Homo sapiens: one gene and its partners. The protein of the gene in region 3 purifies or fractionates together with the protein of the main gene of each other region. This does not show direct contact. Each region holds a gene or a part of one and is shown on either strand. Other genes may lie near its edges.

Region 1 (4,835 bases), on a different chromosome or scaffold from region 3:
ACTTCAAGTGATCCGCCCGCCTCAGCCTCCCAAAGTGCTGGGACTACAGGTGTGAGCCACCGTGTGTGGCCTCGTCTCTCTTAAAAAAAAAAAAAAGAAAAAGAAAAGCCATGACCACGTGACAGGCAGTCTACAAGAAAACCTTTAAATATAAACATATGGATAGGTTACAAATAAAAGCATGAGAAATGATGTACCAACCAAGGACAAATCTTAAGATAACTATAGTGGCTATCTTAGTATTAGACAAAGTAGACTTCAAGACAAGGAATATAACCAGACAAACAAGGACATAACATAATACTAAAAGGACCAATCCATCAGGAAGACATGACAATCATAAATACATCTGTATCCGTCAGACTTTCACAATATCTTAAGTTAAAAGAACTGAGAGGAGAAATAGATAAACTGATAATTATTCTTAGAGATTCCAACATTCCTCTCTCAACAACAGATAGAACAAATAAACAGAACATCAGGAAGCATATGTAAGTCTTGAATAACATTTGTAACCAACTTGACCTAACTGACATTTACAGAATACTAGATCCAACAAAGGCAAGGTACACATTCTGTTAAAGTGCAAATGGAAGATTCACCAAATTAGACTCTAAGTCCATTAAAAAAAAAGGCACAACTAAATAATTTAAAAGTATCATAATCATATGAAGTATGTTCTCTGATCCCACCAATTAAAACTCAATTACAGTAAGATTTCAGGAAAGTTCAAATATTTGGAAAATAAACTCAATTTACTAAACAACTCAGAGATGTAAGTAATGACAAGAAAAATTTGAAAATCACTTTGGCCTGCACAACAGTAAAAACATATCATCGAAATTTGTGGGATGCAGATGAAGCTGTACCTGGAGGGACATTTATAGTATTAAATACTTGTATTAGAAACAAAGAAATGCATGTGAGAACAAAGATCTAAGCATCTACCTTAAAAAGTCAGAATAAGAGCAAATTAAACCCAAAGTAAGAAGAAAGGAAATCGTAGACATAAGACCAGAAATCAATGAAACAAGAAAGGGACAAACAACAGAATTTAATTAATGACATCAAAAGGGGGCCCTCCAAAATGAACAGTAAAATGAATAAATCTCGATCTAGATTGATCAAGAAAAAACAAAATACAAATCACCAACATCAGGCATGAGAGGAGATCACTAGAAATTCTACAAACATAAACTTCTTTCAAAAAACTCCAGGCCCAGATGACTTCACTAGTGGGTTCTACCAAACATCTGAAGAAAAAAGAAAACCCAAAATCTTCCAAAATACAGAAGAGAAGGGAATACTATGTAACTTATTCTATGAAAATGGTATTACCAAGATACCCAGATACTCAAACCAGACAAAAATATCTCAAAAAAAGAATATCCCTTATGAATATAGACAAAAAACCTTCAACAAAATATTAGCAAACACTCTGACAACATATAAAAAGGATTATACACCATGACCAAGGTCATACAAAATTGGTTTAATATGTGAAAATCAACCAATGTAATATACTATATTAGAATAAGAAACAAAAACCACATGAGCACTTCACAAGTGCAGAAAAGCGAATGACAAAATCCAACAGCCTTTCATAATGAAGCACTCAGTAAACTAGGAATAATAACTTAATAAGGGCCATCCTGAGAAACCCACAGGTAACATCATACCTAAAGGCAAGACTGGATGCTTTCCCCTTAAGATCAGGAATAGACAAGGATCCCCACGCTCCCCTTCTATTCAACACTGTACTGGAGGTTCTAGCCAGGGCAAATAGGTAAGAAAAATAAATAGAAAGAACCCAGACTAGAAAGAAAGAAGTAAACCTGTGTCTATTCACAGATGACATGATCTTACACAAAGAAAACCCTGTTGGAACCAACAAATGAGTTTGGCAAGGTTCTAGGATAGAAGATCAATAATCAAAATCAATTTTGCTTCTATACAGTACTAATAAACCAAAATAAAATTAAGAAAACAATTTCATTTACACTAGCATTGAAAATAACACTTAAGAATAAATTTTAAAGGGGAGATGCAAGAGTTGCGCACCAAAAATTATAGAGCATTATTGAAACAAATTAAAGAAGATCTACAATAAATGGAAAGACATCCTGCGGCTAGGGATTAGAAGACCTAATGTTGTTAAATTGGCAATACTTCACAAACTCATCTACAGTTTCAATGCAATCCCTGTCAAAACCGCAGCTGGCTTTTTTATTGTTGCAGAAATTCACGTACAGATCCTAAAATTCACATGGAAATGCAAGGGAGGCAGAACAACCAAAACGATCCTGAAAAAGAATATACTGTGATCGAATGTTAAGTATCGACAGCATCCCAATCATAAACCCGAAACATTTAAAAACAGAAGGTAACTGGCAGGAATACGGCTTGCTGGAAAGCTGCAAGTGGCCCACGCAATTAGTAACAGCCACCTCTTTGCTCTGGCATAAATCTCAACCTTAATCAGAAGAAACTGCATCTGGCAAGAGGAGAGTGAAACTGGGTTTCTAAAACCACTACTTTTTTGAGAGAGGGCCTAGTTACAACCGAGACACTGCTTAGCAACAAAATCCTTTAGGAACTTACTCATTTCCAAAGTCATGATGGGAGCATTAACAACAACACAAATCAATGTTCAGGGCTTTAAATATAAGACCTTTTTGCCCATTCCCAGATCACATGGAATAAATCCTTTGCTAAACATTTGTAATTAAACAAAGATAAGCAGCAAGGTGACTGATCTTGCCATTCTCTTTTCCATATGAACTTCAGGTTATCTGACTCAATCTCTATGTTCCACTCTCTCTCACCCTGTGTTTGGAGTAGGGAAGAGAATGGATTTCACTGTCATAGGAGGAACAGCCTCCTCAGTGCTCTGACAATCAAGTAAAACAGTGCTCGAAAACAGACTCCTGGTCAGTGCTCTCCTTCAAGTATTACTAGCTGCTTTCCTGCTTTCTTGATTAGAATGGTTTTAATCTATTTTTCAATACCAACATCGGAGAGGTAAAAAGCAATGACTCCCCACAGCAGTATTTCTCAGTCTAGACAAGGAATCATGAGAAGAAAGGGCAATATCAGAATTTTAGACGGCCGTGGTGGAGGGTGGGCGTGGAACTCTTGCACTCCTTCTCAGACTATTTTTATTAGTTTATAGATAGCATAACTTCGGATGAAAAAAAAAAGGGGGAAGGTTTTCCAAGACCTATAACATGCCATGTACTTTAGAGACTTGCTCCTCGCAACAACTCTCTGCCATGGGTTAGCACTGCCCCATTTATAAGTGAAGAAACAAGAAACAAAGTATAAGAATTGAAAACTGTAGAAAGAAAAAAATGACAGAAGATTTATCCTATCATATCAGGTCTACATACCTGGTACTTCTAGTAGCAAAAAGTAAAGCCCAGCGGCATGAAGGCCATATTCTCGATACTGTACACTGACATTCTTCTTATGAACTATTTGAACAAAATGATAGAACAATGCCACCAGTGTACTATGGGAAACATTGTTCTCAATGAAGAAGGTCCAGATACTCTGTGGGGAGACCGCAAATCACAAAAGCCAGTCATTAGAGAAATGGAAACATTTCCTATTATTTGATTTTTGTAAGTTCTTGGTGCCTTACAAAAAGAGGAATAGAGTAGCCTGGCTCCTACTGCTAAATGTTTACCATCTTCAAAGGGACTGAAACAAAATATCAAAATTAAAGGTATATTATTCAAAATTACCAAGATAAATATGTATATAACATATTTAAATAATTAAACTTTCAAAAGAATTTTTTGTTAAGTTTGTAGCATATATACTTCAGAAATTATAGCTTAAAACTACACTAAGACTTTTGGGACACCATATATTAGTGATTATTCAGGAAAGTTATCCCTCTATTTATATTAAAAGGAACTCAAATTCCTTTACCAATAATTACTAACTGAGGAAATCAGAGCCCTTTATTTAAATGTTCTGCAGATTGCAGGCAATGGGAGCAGGAAATGAAAGAGATCTCGGAAATGGCCCAGGTAAAGGAGATAAACCCTAGAAAAGAAACCACAATTGTATTAATTCTATCTTCATTCCATGTCTTCTCCTACTAAACACATGAAGAAGAAATGGGTTATTTTAATAACCTAAACATAGCAGGAACTAAATATGGTTTATCCTTGAGTATCGTAACAAAAAAAGGCCCACAAAATTCAAGTGAGCAGAGCACTCTCCTTTCCTTAACTAAAAAACTTACGGGAGAAATCATCTCCACTGGGCACAATGGCTCATGCCTGTAATCCCAGCACTTTGAGAGGCCAGGGCAGGAGGACTGCTTGAGCCCAGGAGTTTGAGAACAGCCAGGGCAACAAAGCAAGACCTTGTCTCCACAAAAAATAAAAAATTAGCTGGGCGTGGTGGCACACACCTGTAGTCCCAGCTACTCAGGAGGGTGAGGTGGGAGGCTCATGTGAGCCCAATAAGTTGAGGCTGCAGTAAGCTTTGACTGTGCCACTGCATTCCAGCCTGGGTGACAGAGCAAGACCCTGGTCTCAAAAAAAAAAAAGGGGGGGGGGGGAAGAAATCATCTCCTAACTTTACAGTGTCACATCCTCATTCCTAATGCCACCTGCACCTCCACTTCACACACGAGGGTGATCGATCACCCTAAACCATCTGCTCACCAGGGCTCTGCATATGGGGTCACCTTGGCCCCATGTGATCCCATGGCTGCTGTCTAGTCTGGGCGTCAGTGACCCTGCACTCCCTACATGTGACTGCTCCTCTGCAGACCCCGTCCAATCAGCTCTCCATTTCTGTCCTGGCTGCTTCTCACC
Region 2 (4,835 bases), on a different chromosome or scaffold from region 3:
TTCAGGTTCAGTGCCTCCCCCACCCCAAAGGGGCCTTTGCACATGCTGTCCTGTCTGGAATATTCTCCTATTTCTTTGCTCAGTTAACATCTCTCTTCCTTTCAAGTACCCCTTCCTCAGGGAAGCTGTCCTAGACCCACTCCCCTGTGTCTGCAGCAAGTTATATATTCTCATTTTGCTGATTATTCAGCAAAGTCTATCTTCCTGCTAGGCCATGCACTCTATGAGTACATCTATTCAACTTTGCATCTTTAGGGCTTGGCATGTAGCCAGTACCCAGTACATGTTCACGGATGAATGAATGAATGACTAGATGACTAGGGAGAGTGCCCTGTCGAGCAGATCCACACTGGAGGAAAAGTGCGAGACCAAGTGCATGTGGAGGTGTTAATTAGTCTTCATCTTGTCCATCAATTGTTGAACAGCTCAGAATGAAAGCACCATGGGGTTTGCTTGATAGTCCCTAACTGCTCAGTGCCTGTTAGGGTGACATCTGGCAGCAGTTACTCTGAGGCAAAAGGCACACAAGGGGTGCCACTTCATTGAGTCAAAAGACGTTTTGCCTGAAAATCTCAGGTGCTGGATTTCACCCCACTCCCCTCCCTGCTGGAACCAGGATCTGAAGACACAGAGATAAATAGGAAACAGTCTTAACAGTAACGAGCTCATAGTCAGGTAGGGGAGCCAGAAACATGACTGTATCAGCACATTGTGCAAAGTAAATCCTTGACATAGGAACGGATGCTGATGATAAAAGAGCGTTTGATGCCTGCCTACTCTGTGCCTGCTACTTTATTGGATTGACTTCCTTTATTTCTCACTGTAACCCTGTGAGGTGGATACTGTTATTATCCCATTTTATGGATGAGGACATTGAGGCTCAGTGAGATGGAGTGACTTACCAAGACTGCTAAGGCAGGCAGCCGAGAGTCAGAGTCATCCCTCCACTGCATAATGCTGCCCTCACACAGGGCAGTCAGGGGAGGGAGTGATGGGCTTGTCCTGAAGGGGTTAGGGAGGGCTTCCCAGAGAGAGTGAAATGGAAACTGGGCTTCTGGGGAGGCCAGGAGCATGGGGCAGGGAACTCTAGGAGAAGGAAGCGACTGAGGCCCAGAGGCATAGAAGGATGTGATGCTTGGCTGGGCGCGGTGGCTCACACCTGTAATCTAGCACTTTGGGAGGCTGAGATGGGCAGATCATGAGGTCAGGATATCGAGACCATCCTGGCTAACAGGGTGAAACCCCGTCTCTACTAAAAATACAAAAAATTAGCCGGGCGTGGTGGCATGCACCTGTAGTCCCAACTACTCGGGAGGCTGAGGCAGGAGAATGGCCTGAACCCAGGAGGCAGAGTTCACAGTGAGCTGAGATCGTGCCACTGCACTCCAGCCTGGGTGACAGAGCGAGACTCCATCTCAAAAAAAAAAAAAAAAAAAAAAAAAGGATGTGATGCTTGATGAGTGCTGAGTGCTAAGGGGTCTGGTAGCACTAGAGCCCAAAGGAGGAGGGTGGCAGGTCGAGGTTAGCTGGGACCGTTGGGCGTGAAGCAATGGGAAGGGCATTGGCTGCCAGGCTGAGGCACTGCTGAAGTCCTTGAAAGCCCATGTTTGCCCCGCAGTCCTGTGTCTCTGTGACTCTGCTGACCTCAGCAACCTCAGGGCTGAAGCTCTGAGCTTGATCTGTCTCTCTTACGGCAGGAGAGGTGCTGAGAGGGGACCGGATTGTCAACACCCCTTTCCAGGTTCTCATGAACAGCGAGAAGAAGTGTGAAGTTCTGTGCAGCCAGTCCAACAAGCCAGTGACCCTGACAGTGGAGCAGAGCCGACTCGTGGCCGAGCGGATCACAGAAGACTACTACGTCCACCTGTAAGTCGCCCTGTGCTCCTTGCTGCCTCAGGCTCACACAGGGGAGGACACTGACGGGAGAGGCGGTCGAGAGGGACTGAGTGGGGCCTTCACTTTCCAGCATTGCTGACAACCTGCCTGTGGCCACCCGGCTGGAGCTCTACTCCAACCGAGACAGCGATGACAAGAAGAAGGAAAAAGATGTGCAGTTTGAACACGGCTACCGGCTCGGCTTCACAGATGTCAACAAGGTAGAGTGTCTTTGGCGTGCTCACAGGACCGGGAGCCACACCTCACGAGTCCTGAGCACTTGGGGCCACAGAAAAGGTGGGGCTCGGCCACAGCAAGTTTCTCCAGGTGCCCTGGGCATGATGGTCTGTCAGAGGTCCGAGTGCTCCGGGCAAGTCCCTGGGAGGTGCTACAGGGAGGTGAAGCCACAATTCTTAGGAAGTTAGGTTCCATTTTTGTAAGATTAAAACAACATAAAAAAAAAAACCGTGGAACTTCATCAGTATGTAGGAGAGAGGGCTAAGTAGTGGTCAAGAGCGTGCAGGCTCCCTGGGTTTGAATCCTTCCTCTCCCAGTTACTAGTTGTCTAAGTGACCCTGAGCCTGTGGTTCCTTAGCTGTAAAATGTATGCAGCAGCAGTGGCGGGGTAAATTAGCACATTCGTGTGAGCCCTTCCCAGCACAGCCCTGGAGAATCAGCTAATAATGTGATGATTATAGCCCTGATTCTCTTATCTTTCTTTCTAAACTGAAAGATATTAGTTAGGGAATAAATTACAAAAGTATGTGTTTTGAGGTGCAGCCCCTGTCCCCAAAGGGCGTCTGTCCTAACTGGGAAGAGAACCGACAGTGGGAGGCTCTAAGTCTCCAGTCCCAGCTGCCTTTCACTGGCCATTAATTGCAGGCGAGGTCAGAGGGAGCTCCTTTTACACTCAGGTTGTCACAGAGGAGGTGGGCCATGAGAAGTTGGTGGGCTTTTGCTGAGTGGAGTTGGGGGTGGCATTCTAGTTGGAGTGATTGCAGGGTAGAGACTGGTTCATGGGGCGGTGGGCACAGGGGAGTCTAGGTGAACTCATGTGACTTAGATGATTACACCCAGTTGTATCAGGGTCAGATGATAGAAGGCCTTGAATGCCAGACTTTGAGAAATGGGCTTTTGTCTGATAAGCTGCAGGGAGCCCTTGAAGAGCTTCTGAGTAGGGGAGTGATGAGAACAGTGTTTTAGGAAGGTTGGTACAACCAGGCATGCTGGGTGAGGCAAGGGCCCTAATACCTGGAGAGTATCCCTAAGTGATGTTCTGTTGTGCTTTCTCTGTTGCTGTGTTTCAGATCTACCTGCACAACCACCTCTCATTCATCCTTTACTATCATCGGGAGGACATGGAAGAGGACCAGGAGCACACGTACCGTGTCGTCCGCTTCGAGGTGATTCCCCAGAGCATCAGGCTGGAGGGTGAGTGGGGAGGTGTGGCCGGAGGGGCAGGGCTGGATGGGCCTGGGCTTCTCCACGCAGGGTCTTCGCACTCTTCTCCCTCCTGAGCTGGCCGATGGGCTCGGGTGTGGCGTGTGGGCCCAGCCAAGGTAGGATCATGGTATTCTCATTAGAGAAGACGGGGTGTGGGGGCAGCTGACAGCTGCAGTGTCACGGGCTAGACACCTTACTAGTTTACCCCTTCCCAGCAACCCCAGGAGGTACGTGATGATTACAAAGGAAGAACTAGAGGCTCAAAAGGAGCTAGTGACTTGGCCAAGACCAAACAGCAAGTTGGGGCTTTGTTGGGCCTCCTCACAAGAACCAGCCAGCTCACCCTGGGTTGAGAACAAGGGGCCAGGGTACAGACAAAGCCTGTAGGCAGCAGGTTTCTTCGTTCCTCTCCCGCTGTGTGAGTGATTGGCATAAACTAAAATTTGCCCAGGGTCAACAGGTGTGCGGGAGTTTGAGAGTCCAGCACAGTCCTGATGGGCCTCACAGGAGCTGGTCCGGCTTTGCCTCACCTCTTGGCCCTTGATCATCACAGTGTGCTTTTTAATTAAGCAGCATGCCCAGGATTTTGACCATGTTGGTGGTATTTGGACTTTTTTTTTTTTTCCACTGTGGAACTTAGTGTTCAAACAAAATTAGACACAGAAGTCCCAAACATAGATCCTGCCCTTCAAGAGCTCCATAGCACATCTCCCCTGGGAGCTTCCCGAGCGCAGTTCTACGTTTGCATGTGTGACGCTTTTGAGGCCACCTGCTCCCCCACTGGCTCTTCAAGCTTAGAGTCTCCCTGTCTCCTTTTCTTACCATTTTATCTTTTTTTTTCCCCCCAAGACAGAGTCTTGCTCTGTCACCCAGGCTGGAGTGCAGTGGCGCGATCTCCGCTCACTGCAACCTGCGTCTCCTGGGTTCAAGCAATTCTCCTGCCTCAGCCTCCTAAGTAGCTAGGATTATAGGCGCCCACTACCGCACCTGGCTAATTTTTGTATTTTTAGTAGAGACGGGGTTTCACCATGTTGGCCAGGCTGGTCTCAAACTCCGGACCTCGTGATCTGCCTGCCTTGGCCTCCCAAAGTGCTTGGATTACAGGCGTGAGCCACCGCGCCCAGCTCACCATTTTATCTTAAGCACCTAGCACAGTACCTGGCCCATAGTTGGTGCTTATTATATGTTGTTGGTTGAATGAGTAGATGGATAACAGGATGAACAGATGAGCAAATGAATGGAGAAAACATCTGAATGATTGATCACGAAAGTGCCAGGGCTTTAGAGATAGACTAAATGAATGAGTAGGCATGATGGAATGGATCAAGGTTTTATGTTGAATGGGACTGGCTGGATGGTAGGTGAACGTTTGAATTGAGTGAAGGAACACTGACTCAGGGAGGAACTCCGACTCAGGCCCCTCCCTTCCCCCATGCACAGGCCTCTCTGCAGCCCCTAAGGACCTTCAGAAAGTCAGGGCTCTGAGGAATAATTTTCAAAAACCATTGTTGGCCAGG
Region 3 (4,835 bases):
CCCGCTCGTGCCCCTTGGACATTTGGCAGTGTCTGGAGACATTTCTGGTTGTCAGCACTGCCGCAATGCTACGGGCATGTAGGGGGCAGAAGCCGGGGATGCTGCCAAACATCTTCCAACAAATAGGACACCCCCCTGCCACAAAGCATTATCAAGCCCCAAATATCAATAGTACTGAGTTGAGAAACTGGGTTGGAGGAACCTGCACTCATCATCTACAAACTCTGAAAAAGTTCCATGATCCCAGCCAAGATCCCTTCCCTTAGGTTTAAGGAAGTTGGTGACAGGAAGCACTCTTTCCTGAATTCCAGAATATTGCAATTAAATACTTTTACACCTAAGGTTGAGTACTTAAGTGGATTTGGGGGAATACAGTCATTGTCAATGGTACTTAATTTATATACCTAGATTAAAAACAAACTTTAAAAAAGTCACACTTCTGTAGCCAGGGGATGAAATCAAATAATCAATTGACTTCAGAGTACCTGACAGTTCTTCACCAGTCACTGTGTAACTTAACAATGATAAGACACAGGTTTTCTAGCATTGTTTATATTCCAAGTACTTACCAAAGATAAAACATTTGGAAAAGTGAAAAATGTTTTCAAATTTGGTTGAAAAGTTTTAAACAGTTGGAACTCAGAGGCATTGCTTTTCCCTTAGATCAGTGAGAAATGAAAGCTGCTTGTAATACTAAATTCAGCACTCACGAGACAGTCTCTGGGATTTCATCTTCCTTTTTGAAGCGACCTGACCATATGAGGATCTTTTTCTGCCAATCCGTAGGTTTGTGTAAAGGCACTCTGTTGTAAGTGCCTATGAGAAAAACCAGACAAGAAATTTTATGTGTTTGAGATTATAACTCTCAAATTTAACAACAGAAAAATGGTATTAGTGCTTTTTAACTAGTCACTAAACAGAAACACTGAGAAACCTCAAGTTAATTAGAACTTTATTTGAATGGAATTTCTTAGGATGCTTCATTTTCCAAATAAGATTATAAAATCCCAAGGAAACGGTGAGGAGCTTGTCTGACTTCAGCAGACTAAGAAAAAGTTTGTAAGGTACAATCAGATTTTACCAGATCTTGAATGTCAGGCTAAGGGGTTTAGACTTGATTGGGAACTACTGTACATTTTGAAACAAGGAAGAAACTAATGTTTTAGGAAGGCTTATTATCTGTACAATGGATGGAGACAGAAAAGGGGGACACGGTAGAGTGGGCAAAAAGTCCAAATGGGAGCCTGTAATACCATGGTGAGCGGATATTCTCTGAACCAGAGTTGTCGCAGTGGAAAGAGAGATGAGGTCAGTCTGAGGATGACTGAAAGAATGTGGAGACTGGTTAAGACAAAGAGGAAGGAGTCACGAAGAACCTCAAACTTGGATGACTAAGACAACAGCAGTATTGTAACTAAAAGAAGACGGGAAAAGACCCAGTTGGGGAAGGAAAGAGCATGAATACTACTTAAAGATTTGCTGACTCTGAAGGGAATATATGCCATCTGAGTCATTTCATTAATAAGTCGGGAATAGAGATAAAAATCAGTGCAAAGGGAGAGCCAGTGAGGGTGATAAGGAGAAGGCCCTGCTTATATTTTACCTAACGCATAATATCTTAATTTGGTTCATCTTTAGAGTTCTTTAAAACATAATTTCTGGACTACTATTTACTTTGGTGCATCCATTCTCCTACAGAAAGCTCCAGTCCAACCCTACAGGCAAGAAGATGAAAATGACAAATGCTGAAAATGAAGAAACCACTGTGCATGTGCCCATGACCAATATTAATACAACATGGGAGGTCTGCTGTAGGAACATGGGCCTACGTATGAGTAAAACATGAGAAGTGTGACGTAGGAAGATGGGCCTGCATATGAGTAAAACATGGGAGGTATGATGTAGGAACATGGGCCTACGTATGAGTAAAACATGAGAAGTGTGATGTAGGAAGATGGGCCTGCATATGAGTAAAACATGGGAGGTATGATGTAGGAACATGGGCCTCCCTCAGGCCTCCCATGTTGTGCTCATATTGGTCATGTGCACATGCACAATGTGAACACAATGTGTTCTCTCTACATGGGAGGGTATGATATAGGAACCTCTTCTCTTTTGGGTTCTTTTGATTCCAAGTTTTCCTACTCTTTGGGAGCTACCAACTCCATAAATAGAAAAAATAAAAACTTACGGGATGGAGCTCCGGGACTTTCCTGTGGTTTTGTGCAAAATCCATTTATTCTCTTCAAATCAGAGCTTCTGGTAAGCCTTAGAGATGAGGAAACATCTCTTTCACATAACCTAAAACAGCTTCCTAAAAAAGAGAGGAAAATGTTTCAAAGAAAGAAAGAAAGAAAATGTGATGTTTTCTCAAAATAAGAAATACCCGCAAGTTACGTTTCATTTATAAAAGGTAGTTCATTTAGGAAATGAATTTACTATATGTAAGATACACATAGTATATTTAAAGTGCTATGCTTGATGCTGTTTTAAAATATAAATGTTTTATTGATTAGGAAATTAGGAATTTACAACATAAAAATGTTATCAGCTGTAAATTTTAAATAAGTACTTCCCACATGTGTCTTATCATAACAATGGCTCTGGTGGCAATATTATGTATTATGGCATCAGGGCTGTTTAAGTAAAGATTAGTAACCTCCCAAAAGTGATAAACTAGGTAACCAAGTTGCCAATACGATGCTGATAAACTGGTTAGGGGGCTGCAGTGGTCAGCAAGTGACTCTAGAAAGCCTTGCTCCTTGCAAGCCACAAGTCCTTAATTAGAAATCAATTTTAGATGTAGTTTTGAACTACATATAACTTTAAAACTATATATATAATATATATAGTTTATTTTAAAAATTTAAACTCAAAGCACAGATAGTAGCATTACGAACCCCTATATACTCATCACCCATTTTCAACAATGATCGCTATATGGCTAATAAATACCATTTAACCTCTATAAAAACCCTGGAAGACAACCTAGGCAATACCATTCTGGACATAGGAATGGGCAAAGATTTCATGATGAAGATGCCAAAAGCAACTGCAACAAAAGCAAAAATGGACAAATGGGATCTAATAAATTTAACTTTTACTGTGCAGAAACTAAACAGGTTCTGCACAGCAAAAGAAACTATCAACAAACAGACAACTTATAGAATGAGACAAAATTTTTGCAAACTATGCATCTGACAAAGGTCTATATCCAGCTCTATAAGGAACTTAAACAAATTATCAAGAAAAAAAACACCAGCCCATTAAAAGGTGGGCAAAGGACGTGAGCAGACACTTTTCAAAAGAAGACATACGTGCAGCCAACAGGCATACAGAAGAAAAAGTAACATCACTGATCACTAGAGAAATGCACATCAAAACCACAATGCAATACCATCTCACAACCAGCCAGAATGGCTATTTTTTTTTTTTAGATATATACTATTTTAATCAGACTATACTTCCAACATTTCACAGATGAAATTATAATCACCTGAGCTTTTAAAAAATAAAAATTAGGCACAAATACACTTACTCATAATTGCACTGGCAAACAGTTCTTATAAGATACTTAAATCTTTGCGAAGAGATAGCCCCCTTCTTTTCCCACGTGCTCTCAAGTCAAGCCTGATCTCTCTCCCTGTCACCCATAAAATCTCACTTATGTTCCATTAACCAGGATCACATGAACCAACCTGAAAGAAAAGGAGTTCTCTGTCTATATAATCATGTTGGCAAAATAAATCGACATATGTTTAACAAAAGCACACAAAATAAGAGATACAATCAGGTGAATATTATAAGTCATTCTTTCATCATTAACATAAAATTGTAATTCTACTTTTGTAAATTTTATCAACAGACTCTCAAATGCCACACTTGATATATACATATAATAATAAGAAAAAATAAATGAAAAATGCATTTTCAGATATATTAAAGAAAATCACTGTTTTATGAAAAATAAGCAAAGCAGCATTACAGTTATTACTCAACTTTCAAAAGGTTACACAAGACTCTTGCTGGCAAATATTAGGATAAGACATTTTCATAGAAATATCTTAAGTATATATGGAAAACAAAACATATTTAAGATATTAAGATATAAGATGTATTTATGATTTAAAATAATCTCTACACAATTATTCTGCACATCACGAGAATATTCAAGACTCTATTGACTTTCTCCCCAATGAACATCTCTATATAGTAACGATATTCTCAGTCTTTTTTTTTTTGTTTTGAGATGGAGTTTCGCTCTTGGTGCCCAGGCTGGAGTGCAGTGGCGCGATCTCGGCTCACCGCAACCTCTGTCTCCCAGGTTCAAGTGATTCTCCTGCCTCAGCCTCCCACGTAGCTGGGAATACAGGCGCCTGCCACCATGCCCAGCTAATTTTTTTGTATTTTTAGTATAGACGGGGTTTCTCCATGTTGGTCAGGCTAGTCTCAAACTCCTGACCTTAGGTGATCCGCCTGCCTCGGCCTCCCAAAGTGCTGGGATTACAGGTGTGAGCCACCATGCCCGGCCATTCTCAGTCTTTTTCATTTATCTATTTATTTAAGTTCTAGGATACATGTGCAGAACATGCAGGTTTGTTACATAGGTATACACATGCTATGGTGGTTTGCTGCACCCATCAACTCGTCATCTACATTAGCTATTTCTCCCAGTGCTATCCCTCCCCTAAACCCCCACCCCCTGACAGGCCCTGGTGCATGATGTTCCGCTCCCTGTGTCCATGTGTTCTCATTGTTTAGCTCCCACTTAAGAGTGAGAACATGCAGTGTTTGGTTTTCTGTTCCTGTGTTAGTTTGCTGAGAATGATGGTTTC
Region 4 (4,835 bases), on a different chromosome or scaffold from region 3:
GCCTGGGCAACATAGCAAGACCCCATCTCTACAAAAATATAAAAGAAAGTTAGGTAACAGTTTGTATTTACCATTTTATATATGCTTTTCTTGAATGGATTTTCACTAGTTTTGGACTGGAGTTCCTTGTGTTCTTCATTTGTAAACAAATACTTACTGTATATCAGGTACTAGGCAGTGTTCTGGGCTCCAGAGATTTAGCAGTGAACCAAAATCCCTATTCTTGTGGCATTTTCTTTCAGGTGAAGAAGACCCACGTTAAACAAAATAACTTCAGGTAGTATATTAGAAGGTGATAAATGCCATGGAGAGAAAGACCCAATTTTAACATGAAGTTGAAATAAATTGTTGACTTGGTGTTTAGTGTTGTTTCTTAAGCTACAAATTGTTTTTATGGTGTAGTTTTGCTGCCACGTATTTCACAGTACATGTTATGCTTGTTGGTGTTTGTATGAGTATTGTATTACCTTATTCAAAATATTAGCAACTTTAGTTAATGCTTCCTCAGTGGTAACTTTTGCACTTACGTTATTCTTGATTCAGTGTGTTCATTTCACTGTAGATGTCATTCATCTTACACCATAAGTTGGTTTTTGTTTTGTTTTTAATCAGATGATGGTGGTGCTACCCCAGTACAGGATGAACGGGATTCAGGGTCAGACGGTGAGGATGATGTAAATGAGCAACACTCCGGATCAGACACTGGAAGTGTAGAACGTCATTCAGAGGTATTGGCTAACCAACATCTTTGGGAGGGCTTTTCCCTTGCGTTCTGTGAGATCTGTTATATTATAGGAGTTACAGAATCTCTGTGACAGAGTTTAGGGTTTAATCTCTGAGAGTAAAGGAGCATAAGTTAATAGAAAACCGCTTGAAAAATAAATAGGGATGGTCTGGTTACTGTTGAAATCACAGTGAAATATGTTCTGATTGGGTCACATTTCAAATGTTAGGCAGTTTTCAACTGTGCATATTGATTCAGAAAATGGGCCCGGCCTTTGATATTTGACTAAGTTTCCCTATTCTGCAATAATGTCATAGTGGGGCATTGAGCATTTGCAATCTGAAGAAACACCACTTGAAATAGAAAGTTATGGGGGTTATCACCTGTCAACATTTATGTCAGCATTTGCCCTTCTGATTTTGAACTGTTACGGTGTATATAATGTATGTAATAATAATGCTTTTTTTTTTGAGACAGGGTCTGACTCTGTAACACAGGCTGGAGTACAGTGGTGAGACCTCGGCTCACTGCAGCCTCTGCCTCTGGGCTCAAGCTATCCTCCCACCTCATAGCCTCCCGAGTAGCTGGGACTACAGGCACAGGCCACCACGTCCAGCTATTTTTGTTTTCTTGGTAGAGATGGGGTTTCACCATGTTGGCCAGGCTGATCTCAAACTCCTGACCTCAAGTGATCTGCCCACCTCAGCCTCTCAAAGTGCTAGGATTACAGGCGTGAGCCACCACACCTGGCCTGCAAATATAATTTTAAGAGCTGTTTTTGTTTAATAATATGTAATAGTATTGGGTTTTGTGTACATTTTAACGTATTTGCTCTAATACATAAATATTTCAGAACTGCTTTATTTTCCTTTCTGTTTATACATCATGTTAACAAGATAAAATTGGGAAATTTTTCAATAAGTTCGCCGTAAGTCTTTGGTAGATACGACTGAAACAAATAGGAATGATAAAGATGCAAAGATTTAAGAACTTTCTATGCCTTATATTTTTCTTGATTACACATATGCAGAAAATTGTCCAATTTTTAGTAGGTGTGATTAGAGATTATATTGACTCTGTCCTTTGACAGCAACATTAGCATATCATACATTCAACAGGTATTTATTGAGCACCTAATATGTGTCAGACTTTTTGCAGGTGCTTTGGACTTATCAGTGACTAGAAGTTAAAATCCTTCTCTTCTTAGGTTTGTTTTTCCAGTAGGAGGAGAAAGACATTAAGCAATAAACATTTTTTTTTAATTGTGTAGTCTGCTAGAAGATAACAAATGCTGTGAAGAAAACAGATAATTAGAACAAAGGATGGAGGGCAGGCTTTGGTGTTAAATAGGGACCATATAGGTCTTTTATTAAGAAAGTGACATTTGAACCAAGGTGTGAAGGGAGGCAAAGGAATAGCCGTGTGGATATGGACGTTTAGGGGAAGAACATCCCTGGCAAAGACCCCAAGGTGAGAGTGTGCTTGATATCTTCAAGGAGCCAGTGGAACTGAAATGGGGTCATTAAGGGGTAGGGGAGGTCAGAGAACTAAATGCGGGTGTGGAAAAGGCTCATCTTTTATATATTTTGATGTCACTCAGGTTTTTTCTGTGCTTTTAAACATTCAGAATAAATTCCAATATTTTAATTGATAGTTGGAAGTTACTTAATAATGTATATGTTGTTACAGCCAGTGCATTTAGTGCATGATATTTTAAGTTTCCTCTTTGGAAACAGCATTCAGAGATTAATCATGGTCAGTTTAGAGCCCAGTAGGGTAGTCATCTCATGGCCTCATGGTGCAGTTACAAGTTCAGGTTACCCTAAGCATCTTTGTTTTTTTATAATATGGATTCTAAATAAATAAGTGTGGCTGTTTTTGAAAATTTGGAAATCACAGACTGTCCCAGACTTAAACTATAATTTGACTTAAAAATTTTCAACTTTGCGATGTTGCAAGTGCTGTATGTATACTTTGAGTACCCATACAACCGTTCTGTTTTTTCACTGTATTCAGTAAATTACATGAGATACTCAACATTCTATTATAAAATAGGTTTTGTGTTGGGTGATTTTGTCCAACCGTAGGTCTTACCTCTGTAAGTGTTTGGAGCACATCTAAGGTAGGCTAGGCTAAGCTGTGATGTTTGGTAGATTAGATGTATGAAATGCGTTTTTGGCTTAATTATATTTTCAGCTTACTATGGGTGTATCAGGCTGTAACCCCATAATAAGTTGAGGCACTCCTGCATCTGTGAAGTTTAAAGAAAAAAATTAAAACCAGCATAGTCCAACTACAGAAATGACTATGAGCCTTTTCACATTATTTATCCTGCAGTTTCATTCTGTCCCAGGTATATGACGTCTATATATTTTAACTTTACTTGAGATGTTATTATATATATTTTGTGTCTTTCTATGTATATATTTTGAGACAGAGTCTCACTCTGTCCCAGGCTGGAGTGCAGTGGCATGATCTTGGCTCACTGCAACCTCCGCCTCCCAGGTTCAAGCAATTCTCCTGCCTCAGCCTCCAGAGTAGCTGGGATTACAGTGCGCTACCACGCCTAATTTTTAGTATTTTTAGTAGAGACAGGGTTTCACCATGTTGGCCAGGCTGGTCTCAAACTCCTGACCTTGTAATCCACCGGCCTTGGCCTCCCAAAGTGCTGGAATTACAGGTGTGAGCCACTGTGCCCAGCCTATGTATTATTTTTTATCTCTTCACTTAAGATGATACTTTTAAGTGTTTCCCCACGTCATTAAAGATTCTCAATAAGCGTAATGTTTAATGGTTTCACAATATGGATGCAGCATCACTTATTCAGCAATTTTCTAATTGTTGTCATTTATGCTGTTTAGCTATTGTATTAAATAACTGAAGCTGCCCTGAAGATTTTTGTACATAAACATTTGTGATCATTTTTTATTGTTTCCTTAGAAAGCTGCCAGGAGAATTAACGAGATTAGAGACTAAGACATTTTAAGGCTCTTCATAGAAATTCCTCTCCAGGAAGGTTATGGTAATTTGCTAAACCACTAGTACTTCAAGAGTGCCAGTTGTACTGTGTATAAGTGTTGAGTTCTGTATTAATGTTCTTTTGCCTGTTTAAAATGGCTTTTAAGAAGACATTTTGTTTTCTCATTAAACATTTTTTTTTAGAAGTAATGGGATGTTAAAAGAGTACGGTTGCATTAAATGAAGCAGTGCAAAGGCCGGGCGTGGTGGCCCTTGCCTGTAATCCCAGCACTTTGGGAGGCCGAGGTGGGTGGATCATGAGGTCAAGAGATCGAGACCATCCTGGCCAACATGGTGAAACCCCGTCTCTACTAAAAATACAAAAATTAGCCAGGCATGGTGGTTTGCGCCTGTAGTCCCAGCTACCTAGGAGGCTGAGGCAGGAGAATCTCTTGAACCCGGGAGGTGGAGGTTGCAGTGAGTAGAGATCACACCACTGCACTCCAGCCTGGCGACAGAGCGAGACTATGTCTCAAAAATAAAAACAAAACAAAAAAAATGGGGCAGTACAAATTACAGGTCCAAAGCCTGAAAGATACTAGTTTCCTCTTGAGGCTGTAACAACTTGATACAACTTGGTGGCTTAAAACAACGAAAAATTATTATCTTATAATTCTGGAGGTCAAGTCCAAAATGGGTCACACTGTACTAAAATCAAGGTGTCCCAGGGCTGTGTTCTTCTCTGAGGGAAGATACATTTCCTTGCTTTCTTCAGTTTGTAGTGGCTACCTGCATTTCTTGGCTGAGGCTCCTTCCTCCATCTTCAAAACCAGCAGCATAGCATCTTCACAACTCATTTTCTGACCTCTTGTTTCTGTCATCATATCTCTCTCTTACTCTGACCTTCCTGTATCCCTCCTGTAAGAACCTTTGTAATTATAATTGGGCCTACCTGGATAATCCAGGGTAATGTCCCTATTTCAAGGTCCTTACCTTAATTACATTTGCACAGTCCCTTGCATGTAAAGTGACATATTCACAGGTTCCAAGGGTTAGAACGTGGACATTTTTGAAGGGCCATTATTTTGCTACCATAAGATGGTACTCACAGCATAATTTTCCCAATAATGGTATTTTTTTTTTTAAACCCCTC

The links. Proteins that work in one complex are often made in the same cells at the same time.
Region 1: the proteins of FAM162A (region 3) and NCAPD3 purify together in Homo sapiens (co-immunoprecipitation; one large-scale study listed by IntAct). This does not show direct contact.
Region 2: the proteins of FAM162A (region 3) and TM9SF4 fractionate together in Homo sapiens (co-fractionation; one large-scale study listed by BioGRID). This does not show direct contact.
Region 4: the proteins of FAM162A (region 3) and IWS1 fractionate together in Homo sapiens (co-fractionation; one large-scale study listed by BioGRID). This does not show direct contact.

What each region holds. Positions count from the first base shown.
Region 1 is NC_000011.10:134,213,547-134,218,381, forward strand, and holds part of NCAPD3 (condensin-2 complex subunit D3), read right to left. Parts: intron 3,553-4,835; coding exon 3,390-3,552; intron 1-3,389.
Region 2 is NC_000020.11:32,139,800-32,144,634, forward strand, and holds part of TM9SF4 (transmembrane 9 superfamily member 4 isoform 1 precursor), read left to right. Parts: intron 1-1,697; coding exon 1,698-1,866; intron 1,867-1,966; coding exon 1,967-2,096; intron 2,097-3,182; coding exon 3,183-3,306; intron 3,307-4,835. UniProt on the Homo sapiens protein: Associates with proteins harboring glycine-rich transmembrane domains and ensures their efficient localization to the cell surface.
Region 3 is NC_000003.12:122,400,239-122,405,073, reverse strand, and holds part of FAM162A (protein FAM162A), read right to left. Parts: intron 2,315-4,835; coding exon 2,192-2,314; intron 817-2,191; coding exon 711-816; intron 1-710. UniProt on the Homo sapiens protein: Proposed to be involved in regulation of apoptosis; the exact mechanism may differ between cell types/tissues.
Region 4 is NC_000002.12:127,519,569-127,524,403, reverse strand, and holds part of IWS1 (protein IWS1 homolog), read left to right. Parts: intron 1-612; coding exon 613-728; intron 729-4,835.